Homo sapiens: one gene and its partner. The protein of the gene in region 2 purifies or fractionates together with the protein of the main gene of each other region. This does not show direct contact. Each region holds a gene or a part of one and is shown on either strand. Other genes may lie near its edges.

Evidence for each region. Proteins that work in one complex are often made in the same cells at the same time.
Region 1: the proteins of CCDC32 (region 2) and AAGAB purify together in Homo sapiens (affinity purification with mass spectrometry; 2 studies listed by BioGRID and IntAct, with this or other methods). This does not show direct contact.

The regions. Positions count from the first base shown.
Region 1 is NC_000015.10:67,234,062-67,237,815, reverse strand, and holds part of AAGAB (alpha- and gamma-adaptin-binding protein p34), read left to right. Parts: intron 1-995; coding exon 996-1,186; intron 1,187-1,311; coding exon 1,312-1,408; intron 1,409-1,747; coding exon 1,748-1,837; intron 1,838-3,754. UniProt on the Homo sapiens protein: May be involved in endocytic recycling of growth factor receptors such as EGFR.
Region 2 is NC_000015.10:40,558,377-40,562,130, forward strand, and holds part of CCDC32 (coiled-coil domain-containing protein 32), read right to left. Parts: intron 1-3,754. UniProt on the Homo sapiens protein: Regulates clathrin-mediated endocytsois of cargos such as transferrin probably through the association and modulation of adaptor protein complex 2 (AP-2). Has a role in ciliogenesis. Required for proper cephalic and left/right axis development.

The DNA of each region.
Region 1 (3,754 bases), about 27 Mb from region 2:
GTATGCATTGACGAGGAGTTTGTGACTGTTTTTCATTATATTCTTCTGATAAGTCAATTAATGGCATGTCATTTTACTTCTATAAGCTGATTTTCCACATTTGTATAAAGTGGAGGTTATGGGTATGGGTGTGAGAGACGGGAGTTTAGGTTGGAACAACTTCTAACTTCTCTTCCAGTTGTAAATACTGTATAACATAATGGAAGCAAAATGCTTCCATGGCTCCATAACCATGTCTATATTCATTTGTTCACCATTGACTTGTCTCTTACTGTGGGGATTTCCTGTTATATACATGCTGCACATAGATTTCCAAAAGATTCAGTTATAATCTAAAACATTTATAGTAATTTGCTTGGCTATTACACATTTAAAATTTATCGGAAGTGTCTTGATCAAACAAGAATTTAGGTTGGCTTTCAAAGAATGTGAACAAGGCTGAATATAAATAGGATTGGGGTCATTTATCAGTATCCATTCTTTTATTTCATTAGCTGAATTAATGTCTAAGCATTCAGTCCAAGAAATATATGTAGCTCTTCTATTTTATTAATGGTTTAGCCTTAATCCTATCTTCCTTTTAGTTTGCAATAAGTACAAAATAGTTACAAATTCTAGAAGATTGTTATTGTCTACCTCCTATGAAGTACTTAAGCAATACAATAAATAGAGCTGTCATTCTTTGTCTTCTACTTGCTCTTTTCTGGATATTTGGTTATATGACTGTTTTTTCCTTTACTACTGTCTAATCTAGTTCACAATGATTTTTGTGTTCTTAAAGAGAAAATGTCAATGACTTAAATTATATCACCATAACTTTTATAATCAGATGATCAGAGAATATAGGATTAAAGCTAATAAATGCAGGGTCCTTTGAAATCCTCACATAAAAGGAAACAGCAAAAGTACCAGCTTTATCTGGTATCTGACTGAGAAAATCAACCAATGTATATTGGTTTTGCACTTTACATGGTAATGTTGTCATTTATTTTTAGATATCCTTGGAACAGAAGATCTTATTGTGGAAGTGACTTCCAATGATGCTGTGAGATTTTATCCCTGGACCATTGATAATAAATACTATTCAGCAGACATCAATCTATGTGTGGTGCCAAACAAATTTCTTGTTACTGCAGAGATTGCAGAATCTGTCCAAGCATTTGTGGTTTACTTTGACAGCACACAAGTAAGACTTTGTTTTCTATGAAGGCTTGAATAAGAAATTATTGCATGCCTTCTTTTTTTCCCATTACATTTTGTCTGACTATCTCTTTTCTGTTTTTGTTTGTTTATATTTTTTGTTCCCTCTAGAAATCGGGCCTTGATAGTGTCTCCTCATGGCTTCCACTGGCAAAAGCATGGTTACCTGAGGTGATGATCTTGGTCTGCGATAGAGTGTCTGAAGATGGTAAGGCCTGTGGATGGGACAGTAGTTGGTACATGCATTTGCCATTCCTTGATAAACAGAGTACATCTGTTTCTTTAACTTAGGACATACATCCCATGTGACTTTATGGCTTTATGAAAATATTTTCAGCTATTTTTCTTTGGAATCTTGTAATACTTACTTTTTTTTTAAGAATGGATACTTCGGGGCTGAGAAGTCATTTTCTTTTTATTATTTTAGATGCCTTTAGAATAACATTGACATTAAGGGAAACACATTGAGATTTGTGAAGAATATTGCAGGAATAGTCATGTTTTATTTTCTTTTTACTTATGAAGATTCTTTTGCATATTATTTTAGGTATAAACCGACAAAAAGCTCAAGAATGGTGCATCAAACATGGCTTTGAATTGGTAGAACTTAGTCCAGAGGAGTTGCCTGAGGAGGATGGTAAGTGTTTATGTGTTAGGAGAAAATATGGCACTTAGATATGAGAGATTATTTTAATTCAGGGAAGAAGAATCACAGCAAAATTCAAGAAACTTTTTTCCCCAGCTGTTTCAAGGATTTAAGCAAAATCCATTGATGTAATCTTATAATCTTACACTTAGTGTAATAATTCATTTTTTTGGTTTTACCACCTGTTTTAGAACTTTTGAAAATGTGTGTTTTTCTTATGGATAAAGGTATAGGGCTGCTTTCTAAAATCTTTGTCATTTCCATAATCCTTTTTCCTTTCCCTACTGCTGAAGAAGGAGAGTTAGACCTTCGTAGTAGTTAAAGTTGATGTTTCTTATTTTGAATTCATAGTAACCTAAGGCTGAATTCCCAAGAATCGCAGGGGACATTTCAAATCCATTTGAATGTCTTTTGGACATTTGAAGCCAAAAGATAGACCCCAAATTTAATCCCCCACCTCCACCCCAGGTAGCTCTGCAATCGCTGTCCTCCGCTATTGCTGGACCTTCTATTTCTTCCCCTCTTCTACTCCCCTTCCCCATTTCTTTTCTCATCTTTTCTCCTTTGAAGTACACCTGTTTTGGTATCTACCAGGATAAGAGGGTTTTTGGTTCACCAAAACCTTATAATCTGGTACAAGAGATGAAACTTACAGATAATTGAATTACCAAGTGGAATGTCATAAGTATTATAGAAGAAATAGTAGTGCTGTGGTATTTTAGAGACCGGAGAGCTTATTTTTGTTTAAAAGTGCAGAGAACGTGTTGGCATTGTGACCTCTCACATGTCAGCTGCTCCATGGGGAAGAAGTTAGAAAAGGTCCTGGGCTTGTAGTGAGAGGACTGCTGGAGAGGTGGCATTGTGAATATGCCAGTTGTTCCAAAAGACATTCTGGGCAGGGGCAACCAACGTGAATTAAAGTACATAGATAAGACATAAGCAGTCATTTCAAGAAACTTGTATTTTTCTTCAAGGAATTAAGAAATATTTTTCTATATTCTGGTTTTATTTATAATTTTTCCAAAATGCTGTTACCTTTGAGAATAAAACCTGCTGGAGAAGAAGAGAACAAAACTGAAATAAAAACTCTGGTTTTTCTCCTTGCTCATTTTAAAGAGTGTTGAAAATTAGCATGTACATCTTTTTCTGTGTTTTTCTAGGTCCCTGAAACTTGTGCCCTGTTTTGTGTATGTGAGCCTGTGTGATTTCTGGCACTAGAATTTTCTCTTTCTCTTGTCCTTGGGAGTCAGTATTTGACTGTTATCATTTTGGAATCTCTGCTCCTTTATACTACTTTATTTCTCGTAGCCCTTTGTCTGAATAATGTTCTTGTATTCATTCAGCTTAATCTTAAAATGGGTTTTTTGATATGTCATCTTTAGGTAAGGTAATGAAAACCTTCCTAGACTTTTAAAATACAAATTATTCCTAAGCCATATTTCCTCATCTTTTACTTGCATGTATTATTCAAACATGAATATAGGACTTTATGCTAGTTTGTATTAATTTTCCTCTTACTGGTACTAGCTCTTCATTTCAGACCACATTTTTGGTTCCTGGTTATATCATCTAAAGTATTAGTTATTCTTTTGAGAATTAAGTCATTCACAATTAAGATAAACATGACTTTTAGGTCTTCATCCAGACATTGGTGGTGATAAACTTATCTTGGTAGAGTATTTTCTTTCTTTATTTTTATTTATTTATTTATTTATTTGAGACAGAGTCTCTCTCTGTTGCCCAGGCTGGAGTGCAGTGGCACGATCTCTGCTCACTGCAAGCTCCACCTCCTAGATTCACGCCATTCTCCTGCCTCAGCCTCCCAAGTAGCTGGGACTGCAGGCGCCCGCCACCACGCCTGGGTAATTTTTTTTTTTTTTTTTGTATTTTTAGTAGAGACGGTGTTTC
Region 2 (3,754 bases):
ATTTGCAGGGTTTGTTTTCTCCTTGAGGATATAAAAAGGGTTATCCATAGCATACATTTAAGTTTTTAATTATTGCTGTTATCAGTGGATTCTCTTTGATATAGGTTATTTAACAATAAAAACAATCTTCATATTGTCTGGCCTCAGTTGTCAAAGTGGAAGGTACTCTTTTGGGCCGGAAAAGGTCTTCCTCTCTCTAAGTATGCTGAGTCCCTGGTCAGGTGTGATTTCAATAGGGCAAGCAGAAACAGGCACTAACACGTCCCTTCTGCCGCTGTCTCCCAGTCCATGCCATAGGCAACAGAAATGACTCTTATTTTCTTCAGAGATGAAAACTTCTTAACTGACTTTAGAGAAGATCATTAACTTTCCAAGCCAGTCTTCACTAATCAAAATCATCACTGTCTTCATTACACTTTTTCTTTCTTTCTTTTTTTTTTTGAGACGGAGTCTCGCTCTGTCACCCAGGCTGGAGTGCAGTGGCACGATCTCACTCAGCTCACTGCAAGCTCCGCCTCCTGGGTTCAAGCGATTCTCCTGCCTCAGCCTCCCAAGTAGCTGAGATTACAGGCGCACACCATCACACGTGGCTAATTTTTGTATTTTTAGTAGAAACAGGATTTTGTCATGTTGGCCAGGATGGTCTTGAACTCCTGACCTCATGTGATCTGCCTGCCTCGGCCTCCCAAATTGCTCTCTCTCTTTCTCTTCCTTCCTCTCTCTCTTTCTCAACAAGGTCTTGCTCTGTCACCCAGGCTGGAGTGCAGTGGCATGATCACAGCTCACTGTAACCTTGAACAACTGCTAGGCTCAAGCAATCCTCCCACCTCAGCCCCCTGGTAGCTGAGATTACAGGCATCTACCACTTCAGGCTAATTTTTAAAAATGTATTTGTAAAGACAGTCTCACTATGTTGCCCAGGCTGGTCTCAAACTCTTGGCCTACACGTGACCCTCCCACATCGGCCTCTCAGAGCGCTGGGATTATAGGTGTGAGCCACCATGCCTGACTTTCATGAAAGTTTCTTAGAAGCCCTTGTCATACAGCACCAACAAGCCAAGGGATCTCGTTCTATAGCTTTATCCAATTGTTGCCTCTTCTCCTTATCATCATTAAACAGATGCTTTGGCTACCACATGCAGAATTTTCATCCCCTAGGCCATGGCTGCAAGCATTGCTATCCTATCTTTGGTGGCTTCCTGGCAAATTTCACATTACTCCCTATCTTTCTATCACTCCACCTATGTTTTTCTCATATCTTTTTCCTCCAGTACATCATTAACAAAATCCCTTTTGTTTTTGCAAGATATTTCTTAGCTATCATGCAAGCTCTCTTCTGACTCTTCTTTCTGTCTTTCCTCAGAAGCTCCTTCTACCTGAATTGCCTTTCCTTCCTCAAAAAATTATTCCCAGGTTTGTAGCTGATCTTCGACAAAGCATATAACAACACAAATTGGGGAAAGGACATCCTATGTAACAAATGGTTCTGGGAAAACTGGCTAGCCACCTGTAGAAGAATAAAACTAGATCCCTATCTCTCACCTTATACAAAAATCAACTCAAGATGGATATAAGACTTGAAATCTTCAAAATTCTAAAAGAAAACCTAGGAAAAACTCTTCCAGACATTGGCCTAGGCAATTTTTATTTTGAGATGGAGTCTCGCTCTGTTGCCCAGGCTAGAGTGCAGTGGTGCGATTTCAGCTCACTGCAACCTCTGCCTCCTGGGTTCAAGCGATTCTCCTGTCTCAGCCTCCCGAGTAGCTGGGACTATAGGTGTGCGCCACCACGCCCAGCTAATTTGTGTATTTTTATTAGAGACAGGGTTTCACCATGTTGGCCAGGATGGTCTCGATCTCTTGACCTTGTGATCTGCCTGCCTCGGTCTCCCAAAGTGCTGGGATTACAGGCGTGAGCCACCGTGCCCGGCCTAGGCAAAAAATTTATGACTAAGATCCCAAAAGTAAATGCAACAATAACAAAAATAAATAAATCGGATCTAATTAAACTAAAAACTTCCGTACAGCAAAAGAAATAATCAGAGTAAACAGACAACCCATGGAATGGGAGAAAGTATTTGCAAACTATGTATCTAACAAAGGACTAATATCCAGAATCTACAAGGTGCTCAAACAAATCAGAAAGAAAAAAACAATCCCATCAAAAAGTGGGCAAATGACATGAATAGACATTTCTCAATGGGATTTGAGAAGATATACAAATGGCTAACAAACATATGAAAAAATGCTCAAAATCACTAATCATCAGGGAAATGCAAGTCAAAATGGTGAGCTACCACCTCACCCCAGCCAGAATGGCCACTATTAAAAAGTCAAAAGACAATAGATGTTGGCACGGATGTGGTAAAAAGAGAATCCTTATACACTGCTGATGGGAATGTAAATCAGTACAACCTCTATGGAAAACATATGGAGATTTCTCAAAGAACTAAGAGTAAATCTACCATTTGATCCAGCAATCCCACTACGAGGTGTTTACCCAAAGGAAAAGAAGTCGTTATATCAAAAAGATACCTGCACGCATGTTTCATAATTCATAATTGCAAAGATATGGAACCAACCTAAGTGCCCATCGAGCAATGAGTAGATAAAGAAAATATGGAATATATACACCATAGAACACTACTCAGCCATAAGAAATAATAAAATAATGTCTTCTGCAGCAACTTAGATGGAGCTGGAGGCCATTATCCTCTAAGTGAAGTAACTCAGGAATGGAAAACAAAATGCCATACGTTCTCACTTATAAGTGGGAGCTAAGCTATGGGTACACAAAGGTATACAAAGTGGTATATTGGCCGGGCACGGTGGCTCACACCTGTAATCCCAGCACTCTGGGAGGCCGAGGTGGGTGGATCACGAAGTCAGGAGTTCGAGACCACTCTGACCAACATGGTGAAACTCTCTATCTACTGAAAATACAAAAATGAGCCAGGCGTGGTGGTGGGCGACTGTAATCCCAGCTACTCAGGAGGCTGAGGCAGCAGAATTGCTTGAACCCGTGAGGCGGAGGTTGCAGTGAGTCGAGATCGTGCCACTGCATTCCAGCCTGGGCAACAGAATGAGACTCCGTCTCAAAAAAAAAAAACAAAACAACAACCAAAAAAAAAACAAAACACAAAGTGGTATACTGGACTTTGGAGATTCAGAAGTGGGGAGGTTTGGAGAGGGGTGAGGGATAAAAAACTACACATTGGGTACAATGTCCACTACTTGGGTGATGGGTGCACTAAAATCTCAGACTTCACCACTATACAATTAATCCATGTAGCCAAAAACCGCTTGTACACCAAAAGCTATTGAAATAAAAAAATTAGGGCCAAGCGCGGTGGCACACGCCTGTAATCCCAGCACTTCAGGAGGCCAAGGTAAGCCTTATTCCCAGGTTTGGCTTTGTGAAACATGGATGAATCTCATGGTTGTTCCACAATAAAAGGATATTACAATTCTAAAGACTGCCCCTCACCGCCCTAGACTGATATTTCTTTTTCCCCTAGCATGGGACAATTTGAATCTCTTTCCTGTGTTTGGAATCTCTCTAGATACTTATACTATGGCCGCAGGACAGGGTACTGAAAATGTGTTCAGGAAATATTTTTAAAATAAAATGGCTAACAAGAGGCAGAATGAATCTTATGTCAATATGCTCCCATTCTCAACAATCAATCTATTTATGTAAGTTTTTCAAACTCCAGCATCAGAAATCCACATGTAGCCCTGGGGCCATCACATTT